2 separate regions of the Homo sapiens genome follow, and region 2 is linked to region 1. Evidence: fine-mapped expression QTL. A gene starts in region 1. The other region holds a variant in brackets. All regions are shown on one strand. Distances are from middle to middle. Region 1 holds the start of NPEPL1 (aminopeptidase like 1). Region 2 overlaps STX16 (syntaxin 16).

What was found. PIP is the estimated chance that this variant, and not a neighbour inherited with it, causes the effect.
Region 2: its variant is the best candidate, but not a certain one, in a credible set for the expression of NPEPL1 in whole blood (TOPMed, PIP 0.65).

Annotation. Positions count from the first base shown.
Region 1 is chr20:58,690,653-58,696,018 of GRCh38, forward strand. It overlaps NPEPL1 (aminopeptidase like 1), which reads left to right and starts at 2,148. Exons shown (of 12, transcript NM_024663.4): 1 at 2,148-2,398; 2 at 3,085-3,270; 3 at 3,770-3,940. The coding sequence starts at 2,249. It overlaps STX16-NPEPL1 (STX16-NPEPL1 readthrough (NMD candidate)), which reads left to right. Exons shown (of 23, transcript NR_037945.1): 9 at 382-575; 10 at 753-910; 11 at 1,072-1,128; 12 at 3,085-3,270; 13 at 3,770-3,940. RefSeq lists enhancers at 1,581-2,286, 3,727-4,334 and silencers at 1,784-2,273, 2,284-2,443, 2,474-2,553, 2,574-2,663.
Region 2 is chr20:58,657,318-58,662,683 of GRCh38, forward strand. STX16 (syntaxin 16) reads left to right here. Exons shown (of 9, transcript NM_001001433.3): 2 at 2,306-2,317. It overlaps STX16-NPEPL1 (STX16-NPEPL1 readthrough (NMD candidate)), which reads left to right. Exons shown (of 23, transcript NR_037945.1): 2 at 2,306-2,317. Among named protein-coding and RNA genes, the nearest start is that of STX16, 8.7 kb to the left of the region's middle. RefSeq lists an enhancer at 3,950-4,449. The variant AAAG/A (reference allele first, on the strand shown) is at 2,140.

The DNA.
Region 1 (5,366 bases):
ATCTAACGTTTTCTCTTGCTTTGTGTACACTAAGTGCTCAACAAATGTTGGTTGAATTGAATCATTTTGTTCATCCTTTCTGGGGACTGTCAGGGTTATTCAGTCTATTCTTAAATATGAAAGAATTCTAAAAGAAAAACATCTCCAAAATGACCTCTCCACCAACAGTTTATCTCATTTCCAACTCCTTGTACACAAACCTGCTAGATCTGGCTTTCTGAAATGCTTCTTGGATCCCTCTTCAGTTTGCAAAATTCTATAGAGTGAGCCAGGCTCCCCAGTCGATCTCCTCACCCACTCCTATTTTCCAGGAACCTTCTGTTCTAACCACACAGGTTTCAGAGCCTGCTGGACATATTCTGCGTCTGTGTTTCCTCCCAGGACTTCTCCCACGTGGAAGGCCTTCTTTCTCAATCTCTTCGCCTGTGGAAGTCCTATTACATCTGTCAGGGCATGGCCTTAGTCTCTCACCCTCTAGGAAGATCCTCCAGCTGTCTCAGTCCTCTGGAGTGCCGTGTGCCTGTCTGCAACGTATTTGCAAACAGAAAAAAGAGTGAGAGATCTTCATACACACTGTTAGTACCCTTTACCAATGTGTGAAAACATTCAGCTGCTGTAAAATCTTTTGAAGAAAATAAGATCCAATTAGCGTTGACTTTTATGTCGGGAAAGCTGAGGGTTTCAAAGGAATGCCTTTCAGTCATTCAACAGCTTTTTTTTTTTTTTTTTTTTTTTTTTTTTTTTTTTTTGAGTGCCTGCTCTGTGCCAGGAACTGGAGGAAAAAAAAACAACAAAAAGTCAAAAAGACCTGCCTTCAGGATGCTGAAGCTCTAGTCTGTGGTGTTTCCAAGGGGCCAGGGACCATGGCTCAGAGCTGAGCAGACAGACCTGGAGCCTGTGGACAGGGAAGGTGAAAGCCTGGCTTGTGGCTCCCGGGGCTACAAGTTAGGGAGCTAGGGGGCCAGCTGGGAGGTCAGTGGTGGAAAACCTCTCACACCACGCCAGGGAGTTGACAGTGCTTTTTTTTCTTTTTTTCTTTTCTTTTTTTTTTTTTTTTTTTTTCATTTTTAGGCTGGTTATGAAGAAGAAACTCAAAATAACAGGAGTGGCTTATGGAACTACATGGAGGTAACAGAGGAGGGTACCAACCAAAGGCCCTTGAGCAATCAGGATGTTGGGTAACAGATTTTTGCTTTTAAATGACTCCTGGGTGGAGCTTCCCCAATGCATCGTCATTCCCTGACCCTTGCATCTGACCCTGTGGGTGGGACCCTCCGCCTCCACCATCCACTCAAGGCTCACCCCTGGCTCCTCCACCACCCGGCTCCTGCCCCACACCCCCGATGGCCTTTCCTCCCCTGTAAGGCGACTGAGGTGACTCAGGTCACCCTGCTCCTTCCTCGTCTCATCTCGTCCCTCCTTTCCTGCTTAGACTGTGCCAGATGACCCTTCTTGCAAAGGGGTGGGCGGGAAGGCCCCCCATGCAGCCAGGCAGTGCCTGGATTTGTAACTGGCCATCCCAGCAGCAGTGCCCTGGATGGAAAGCCACGTCCCTGTCACCCTCTCACATCCAGGGCAGTGCCTGGCAGAGCGGGGTCTGATAAACGCCAGGGAACCTCCGATTAAGTGAGGAGGAAGTGACCGTCCACGCTGTACCCACCATGCCAGGCAGTGGGACAAAAGGACCTGACTCAGGTCCAAGAGTCACTGGGCCCCTCCGGCCTAACTGATGGGTGGCCAGGGTGCGGGGTCCCTGGGGATCAAAAGCAGCTGCTAAGGGACCTCGGGGGACCTGCTTGGGGCCAGCCTGAGGCCTGACCGGGCGGAACTGCGTCGGGTGGGCTTGGGCCTACGTCGGCCCAGGCCCCACTGGAGGCCAGGCCCGTCCGGGAGGCGCTGCCTGGCGGGCCACGTCGCCCCGCGTGTTGGGCAGGGCCGCTAGGCCCAGGGGCGGCGCCGCTGGAGGCCGGGCGCGCGGGCCCTACTCGGCAGGGCCTGCTCGGGGCCGGCTTCGGGCCTGCCCGGCCGGGCCTGCCCGCACCCTTCCGCCCGGCCTGGCCGGCGCCCCCTCGCGCCCCGGGCGGGCCCTGCACGTCTCGCGAGCAGCCCGGAGCGGCGGGGGAGGCGGGGCCCGCGGGCTGCCGGGCAGGGCCGGGGCGGTGCCGAGGCCGGGCCGGAGCGGGGCGAAGGGGGCCGAGCGGCGGGCCGGGCCGGGCCGGGCAGGGCCGGGGCGTGGGCCGGCAGGAAGATGGCGAACGTGGGGCTGCAGTTCCAGGCGAGCGCGGGGGACTCGGACCCACAGAGCCGGCCCCTGCTGCTGCTCGGGCAGCTGCACCACCTGCACCGCGTGCCCTGGAGCCACGTCCGCGGGAAGCTGCAGCCCCGGGTCACCGAGGAGGTGAGCGGGCCGCCGGCCGCCATGCGACCCGCGCCGCGGAAGCCCAGGCCCGGGCGGCCCGCGGAGGCCCCGCCTCGCCCGCCGCACCCCCGCCGCCGCCGGGCCGGGCCCAACGAGGCCGGGCCGCCTCCCTGAAGGGCTCAGCCGCCAGGCCAGTCCTCGCCCGCGGAGGCCCAGCCCCAGGCCCCGTCGCCGGTGCGGCGCGGTGGTCCTCCTGTCAGCCCAGCCCTGCGCCCCGCGAGGCCGCGACACCTGCGGACGGCGGGGGGGGAGACGTGGCCGCTCCCAGGGCCGCGCGTCGGCCCCGCCTGGCGACAGGCCCTGGCTTCCAGAAGTTCCCATGGCAGTGTCCCCAGCTGCCTTTCCTTGGGGACACCTGGCCCCTGCCCCCTCTCTGGTGGAAGCCGCCTAAGCCCTATCCGAGTGTTGGAAGCAAAGCAGCCCCCAGCCTGGCCCTTCCAGGCTTGGTGGCTTCATCCCACCAGGGGGATGCGAGCCAGCCTAGAGACAGTTAGCTCTGCAGAGAGGCGACACATCTCCCTAAGGATGGGAAAACGGTGGCCGGGAGCTGCGCAGTGCCCTTCCAGGACTGCAGGAGTGGTTGTGGCCGTGGCTGCAGGGCAGGGCCTCCTGGCACGTGGCCGCTGTTTGAAGCCTCTGTGTCTTGTCTCTCCCTTCTGATCTAGCTCTGGCAGGCTGCCCTGAGCACGCTCAACCCCAACCCCACGGACAGCTGTCCCCTCTACCTGAACTACGCCACCGTGGCTGCCCTGCCCTGCAGGGTGAGCCGGCACAACAGCCCCTCGGCCGCCCACTTCATCACGCGGCTGGTGCGGACCTGCCTGCCGCCCGGAGCGCATCGCTGCATTGTGGTGAGTGCTTCGAGAGGAGGCAGCCACGGTGCTCCTAGTCGGGCAGCGGTGAGCTCGGGCCTGGGGAGCTCACAGCCCTGCTCAGACTGCAGCGCACGCCCAGAGGGCTGTGGACGTTATCATCCCTGCTCTGTAGACAGGGAAACAGGTCCAGAGAGACGCGGGGATTTGCCCCAGATCAGTTTTGGTGGCAAATCAGAGACTCAAACCTAGATTTCCTGAGGCCCACTTTGTGTCTGTCCCTCTGTCCCTCATTTTCATGGCTGGTCAGGCTGTTGACATCTGGTGGCCAATGTGTTATTTCTCTTGGAGCATGACCAATGGTGGTCCCATGGTTCCGGGGATGACCTGAGGGATGGGGTGGCGGCTGCTGTGGGACATCTCTGTCTAGATGTCACCTGCCAGGGAGCTGATGTTCCGGAGGCGTTCAAAGAGCAGCTCCCTGCACTCCCTGGTGGCGGCCCTTGCACCCCTCACGCCGTCTCCCTATGTGCCACAGATGGTCTGCGAGCAGCCGGAGGTCTTTGCTTCCGCCTGTGCCCTGGCCCGGGCCTTCCCGCTGTTCACCCACCGCTCAGGTGCCTCTCGGCGCTTGGAGAAGAAGACGGTCACCGTGGAGTTTTTCCTGGTGGGACAAGACAACGGGCCGGTGGAGGTGTCCACATTGCAGGTGGGTGTCTGGAAGGGCAGACACTGCCCCTGGGCCCGGGCAAGATCGGGCAGGTGGGAGGGAGGTCGGGAGAGGGAAAAGCTTGTTGCGGGGGCAGGAGGGGGTTCCTGCCCTTCCCAGGAGCTTTGGTTCCTGGGAAGCGGCAGAGGCTTTTCCAAACCCAGGCCCCCTGCCTCTGCCTCAGCGTGGTCTGTGACTTCAGGATTCTGTTGTATACAGGCAGTGTTTGTTGAGCACGTAATCAGTGCCAGGAACGTCCATGCTGTTTTCCAAATAACCCTGCCCGTTTATGTGAGCTCCGTGTGCACGTGTGTGATGTATGCACGTGTGTGTGTATGTGCGTGCACATGTGTGTTGCTGTGCGTGTATGAGTGTATGTGCATGTGTTGTATGTGTGGGGGGTGTGTGTGTGCATGTGTGATGTGTGTGTGTGTGTGGTATGTGTTGCTGTGTATGTTTGCTGGTGTGTGCATGAGTGGTGTGTGTGGTGTACGTGTGGTATGTGTTGCTGTGTGTGTGTGTTTGCTGGTGTGTGCATGAGTGGTGTGTGTGTGTGGTGTGCATGTGTGGTGTGTGCATGTGTGGTGTGTGTTGTTGTGTGTGAGTACTGGTGTGTGCATGAGCAGCATGTGTTGCTGTGTGTATGAGTGCTGGTGTGTGCATGAGTGGTGTGTGTGTGTGTTGTGTGTGTTGCTGTGTGTGTATGAGTGCTAGTGTGTGCATGAGTGGTGTGTGTGTGGTGTGTGTGCATGTGTGTTGCTGCACCCTTTACAGGGAGCACTTCTACATGTGTTATTTCACTCAATGCTGAGAATGATCCTTTTGAGGCTGCAAGGCCGGAAGTGATTTCCCAGCTCCAGATCCTTGGATGGGCCTGACATCAGGCTCCTGTCCCCACGGCAGCGGTCCCAGCCTCTGCGCCTGCCACCTCCAGTCCCCGAGCCCACAGCGCCACCCAGGTTGTCTTTTCTCATGTGTCAGCGCTCATTCTTCACTTCTGGCTCTGGAAGGCTGTCGCCTTCACCCAGGCAAGCTCTCCCACATCAGCACTTGGGCCACACCTCATTTCTTTCACTGTGTGCTCTCTGAGGCCTGTAACCACTGCCCCTCAACCCAAATTCTTCCATCTTCACCAGCATGAGATAGCTCCCCTTTTTTCCCTTCGTCTCTGAGCTTTTAAAAAAGTCTAACTGGTTTGCCTTGCTTAATCCTCTTTTCCCTCTTAACCCATGGAGACAGAGTTTTTGCCCCCATCCTGACATTGTTTTCTAAGGACTGCTGGATGGGGTGTTGCCGTCCCTCCTTGAAGTGCATCTGCCCCATCCAGAGGTCTCCCTCCCTCCCGCTGCTCCCCAGACTGCTGCCACCTCTCGGCATCCCCTTCATGGCCTCTCCAGCGTTCCGACCTGCTCAGCCCTCTCCGGGT
Region 2 (5,366 bases), 33 kb before region 1:
TTAAAGATTCCATGGGAGCAGTGAGGCTTACTTTGAGAATAAGGGTACTTTGTTGGATAAAAGTGAAGCAAACTTTTATTTTGGCAGTAACGGAAATAAAGTAAATATCACTATAGCATAGACCTGTGTTTCCAACTCATTTTGCTCAACTTTTCCAGACTTCCTGAGTAAACACAGATGGGTTTCCACTTATTTTTCAGTTTTATGTAGAAAGTTCTTTAGACTATAAATTCCACATGCTACTTGGAGTTTTCAGTGTTTGCTTGATTGCATGCCATTGGAAGGTCAAAAACCTAGATTTAGACATTATAAAGATTTAGAAGGTGATGATGTGTAGTAACGTGTTTTCATTTGGCTTTATTTTGGTCTTTCTTGATGGTAATTCTAAATGTTTTAATTCAGGTCTTGACTAAATTTCCTGGTAATTTGGTGGCAGACAGAATTTTGAAAGCCTTCTATTTTTAAATAGCAGAATGGTGGGGAGGGTCTTTGAAAAGGTGACCTTAATTTAATATTCCTGATGTGGTGGTAGCTGCCTATCACAAGTAATTCCCTGAATTGTTAATAAAATTAGAGAGGCTGGAGGGTGGGGTGGAAAGAGACCTGAACACCTGGGTCTGTCCCCAGTCTGACCATTAACAAGCTCTGTGGCTTCAAGCAATGCATTTATACATTTTGAAGCTTAGTTTTCTTATTTGTAAGAAAAGACTTATTTCTAGCCCTAGAATCCCATGATTCTGATTTCACCTCTTATCAACTAATAATTGTAGAAATCAGAAGATCAGGGTGTGTGTGCTCGGTTAATAATCCAAGAGCATAGGCACATGTGCAGCAGAGATTTTAACCGAGGTTTGCAATAGTACATCGTTCAAAGATTAAATGCCAGGGAGCCGCTGCAGAATAGGAAGAAGACTGAGATACTCAAGTTAGGGATTTTGTCTTGCATCATGTTTTATTAATAAAAGATTTTAATGTTCTCTTAATGTTAAGCTTTTAAAAAATAAAAACATTTTTTCTTTGTAAAGTAAAAGGTAATTAAATCAGCTTTCCATTTGATTTATTAATATCGTCTAGTACTACTATTATGGCAGGGTGTGTATAGAGTTCTTTTTTGCTCTCATAGAAAATTGTGGAAGGAATGAAGAGGATTTGCAGCTTTTCATAATGTCATCTAATTGAATTTTTACGTGGAGTAAAGTTTGATTACATTTTTATTGCTATCATTGTTTAATAATATTTTGACCCTGATAGAGCAGCTTCATTTGCACTATTTTTAAATAAGAAAGTTATGTTTTATTTTCTAAATTTACTGCTAAACATAAAAAAACACAATTGATTATTGAATTTCACCACTAATTATTTCAGTGATCAATACTGTACAAAAAAAAGACCTAGTTGTTTAGATTATCTGTCATTAGTAAATGTCTGTCCAGAAGATAGAGTTCCATGTTGATCTAAAAAAGAACCTTTACTTTTCAATTGAAACTTAACCCTCTGGTGTCATGCTTCTCCCTTCCCCCTCCCCTTAAAAGAAAAAAATTATTCTTACCTTTTGTTTTGTCTCGTTTGCTTGCTTTTATAAGAGCCTTATGAATAACTGTATGCTTTCTAGCTAATAATAATACATACCAAGAGATGGTAAGAGTTTTTCTTTTATTTTGCCACCTGTGTCTCTCTCCGGGAAAGAGTGGTTTCTCAGCTCTCTTACTACCAGGGATGAAGCCGTGTCTGCGGGATGTAATTTGCAGAGACCTTACATATGTGGTCACTCACATGTTATCTGAATACAGCTACAGACAATTTTTGTGGGTCATTTATTTTTTAATTTTGTTGCATTTGCAGGTCTGATTTACATGTTAAAATATACATTTATTTAACATGATAAAATTACATTTTAGCTCTGCTCTCTTATTTTATTTTCCTGAGGGAAAATAGAATGTGGTATTGTATGTGATATTTGGTGTTTATGAAACAGATTAACAGCATATTTTAGTGAAACCAAAGCAAGTGTGTTTTATCTGTTTCCAGTGTATTTTAATATTTACAGTCATTTTTTGCTTGTTTCCTAGCTCATTTTCAAAACAACCACAGTAAATAAAAATTAAAGCATATATTGATGTAGCTTAATTTAAAAAAAAA[AAAG/A]GAGATTTTAAAATGCCTTGCTTAGTGGATCTTTATATTTAGTCAGCTTAAAATCTCAGTGTTTTCTCAACTGACCATGCCTTGTCTGTCTGTCTGTCCCATGCTGCTTTCTTTGTGCTTTCCCCAACTGGATGGGACTGATGGGGACAACATGTCTCTTCAGGAGCTGGACGAGGTATTGTGTTTTGAATATTTTTATATGTTGGGTAATTTGAGTTTATAAAATACCTACTTTTCCTGAAGTCTTTGCTCATATATAAAATGCTAACAGCTTATACATATTTAGCATTTGTTTTGATTACTTTATAATTTTTTTAACAGTTTAATATGTAGAATTTAATCTATTTTCACACCATGTGAACTGATGATTTAAAAAAGGCTTTGGGAAGATCGTTTACTAGTCTTGGGAAAGTGTCTTAACTTTGGAAGCAGTAAAGGTTGAACACTTTCTTCAAGGAAGCCAGAATGTTTTGAGAATTAATGTCTGTAGCTTCCTGATTTCTGAGAAGTGAGTCGTGCACTTCCTCAGGTAGACAGTATAGAAGGCCAGCATGTCTGTGAAGGCCCTAAATGAGAAGGACTGTAGCCACGGCAACTGTGGGAGGGTCTTCCTTGTCACTCCTGTCTGGAATGAGATGACACCCAGTGGATGCACCTGGAGCTATTGTCACCTGGGCCCAGTTCTGCATCTCCTAGCTGGGGGTGCCTTTGGCCTTTTTATTAGCTACTAGCATCTTGCCCAGAAGGTGGAGAGAATATATATTCAAAGCACTTTATTTTAGTAGCCGGAGTAAAAGGGTTGAGAAAAAATGAGATTAAAACTGTTGTTAATGTTTGTGTCTATTGTCTGTTTCAGCATTGAAGGGGTAAGAATATTTTTCCTGAGTATAGACCTTTTAAGTAGAGTGATGGAGAGGTGAGGGTTGTTCTTGTTTGTTTTCATTTAGAAGTATGAATAGTAAAGTAGGATTAGGAGGATCACTGTCCTTAAAACCAGTGGGGTCCTAACTAGTAGATTCAGATCTACCTATATATTCTAAAAACCTTAACTAGTTGATAATGACAACAGACTGAGCACAGCCTAAATAGCCTTCATTGGGAACTGGTTAAATATATTGTGTAGCATCTCTGACCCTCTGTAACAGGTAAATAGTGAGGCCCATCCATGAGAGCTGCAGTGGAATAAGCCCCAGACACATGGCGGAGTGGAAAGACCCAGATGCAGAGCAGCATGGATAATATGATTCCTGCTCCTTTTTTTTTTTTTTTTTTTTTTTTTTCAGGAAAAATAACTCATATTTATGCTTGTGTGTGCTTAAAAAATTCCTGAAAAGATACACAAGAAACTGTTAACAGTGGATACACCCCAAGAAACATCTGGGATAGAAAACTTCCTTTCTATTGCAAACCCTTTTCTTAGGGTGGATATATATTTTTAAACCATGTGCATGTATACTTTGCCACTAAAAACAATTAGTTAAAAAAAAAAAACACCACTCAACGGGTAGCTGACTGAGCCAGGTGTCATGGTCATGCCTGTGTGGGGGTTTCCTTTCCCATTCAGGAACCTCACTGCCAGCTCCCCGCCTGGGCACGGGGCCCTGGAGAGGGCTTGGGGGCTTGGAGAGCAGGCGTTCTGAGTTAAAATAGATGTTGCTACTGGCTGAACAGTTTGAAGATATGGAGCTTATGACCTCAAAAGGAAGTGTATAGGATGCGAGGGAGGGTAACAAATTATGGAACCACTTAGGTTGAAGAACCATTTGAATAATGTTCCAAGGAGGGGCACATAAGTGGTCATAATTACTTCGGGGTCTGCTGTCTGAACCGATTTCCAGTCTTTCCTACTTCCTTTTTCAGGCAGCAAGTTCCAGAAACTGGCTACTCACTGCATGAACTTGGCAGGCCCTTTTGCTTTTCTTATGTTTCACCTCTAAGGGCTTAAAAGGGAGTCTTCACGCTCTGTGATCAGAGGCCCTGCGTAGAGAGCACTATCTCCTCCACGCTCACCCCAGTGCTATTAGAAATGCAGGTTGCTGCCTCATCGTGGGTGCCCACGGCCACCTCATTTCCTTGTGCGTTTCACTTGCCTCTTTTGCTCTTTTGTGCAGTGCCGTTATCTTTTTCATGAAGTGTGGCTTCCACAATTGTCTGTGACGTACATTTTATTTACCTCGTGCATTCATTCCACTCGTTTCTTGTCGGATCACTCAGCTGGTTGTGATTGTGCGTTCAGGACTCTGAAGTGCCAGGTACTGGCCTAGGAGCAGGGGGTGTGGTTGGGGACAGTGTCCAGAGGCTTCTTTGAAGCTGACGCAGGGCCTCACATTGGCATCTCTGGAAATAGTGAACACCCAGCTCCAGAGTGGATTAGATGTTAGCCACCCCTTTATAGGGGAGGCCTGAGCAAATGTCCCTGAGTGAATATCACTTGCATCTCCCAGAGTAAAGGCATCTGACGGCCTCACTTCAGAGGCTTCCTGCAGTCTGTCCATGTTTGATTGTCATTCTCCTCCTCTAGCCTGAGTACCCTGGAGATGTCACTTTTCCTTCTCAGAAAACACTAAGTAAGGTGTTCCCTGAGGAGGACCCGAGCCCACCATTGGTTCTCTTACCCAGGGAAGTGTCTGGCCCTCTCCTTTGTTCTCTGTCTTTAATCTACTTCCTGTCTTATGACAAAGAAATCTCTGGGAGTTTTTAAACTCAAGAATTATTTTAAAAGTCACAAGATAACAAATGTCAAGCCCCCAAACCACACTGCCTGGAGGACTGCACATCTGGGAGTGCCTGGGCCGGGCCCCAGTGTCCATGTTGGTGAAATAGGGAGCGGCGCTCCTCTGAAGGATTGTTCTTGGGACTGGCATGGGCCAGGTCAGTAGCAGTGCTCAGTACAGTGCTCACAGAAGGCAGGGAGGGACGGATTGCTCCCCTCCTTTTTCTTCCCCTCAGAGTATGTATGTTAGTTGAGAAAAAAGGAAAATCAGTGAAACTTAACAACAGTATCAGGGTGATGTGATTCTCAAGTGTTTTTATCTCTATATTTTTTGTATCATTTATTTTTATTTTTTTGAGACAGAGTCTCACTCTGTTGCCCAGGCTAGAGTGCAGTGGCGCGATCTCGGCTCACTGCAACCTCTGCCTCCCCAGTTCAAGCGATTCTCCTGCCTCAGCCTCCTGAGTAGCTGGGACTACAGGTGCGTGCCACCATGCGTGGCTATTTTATT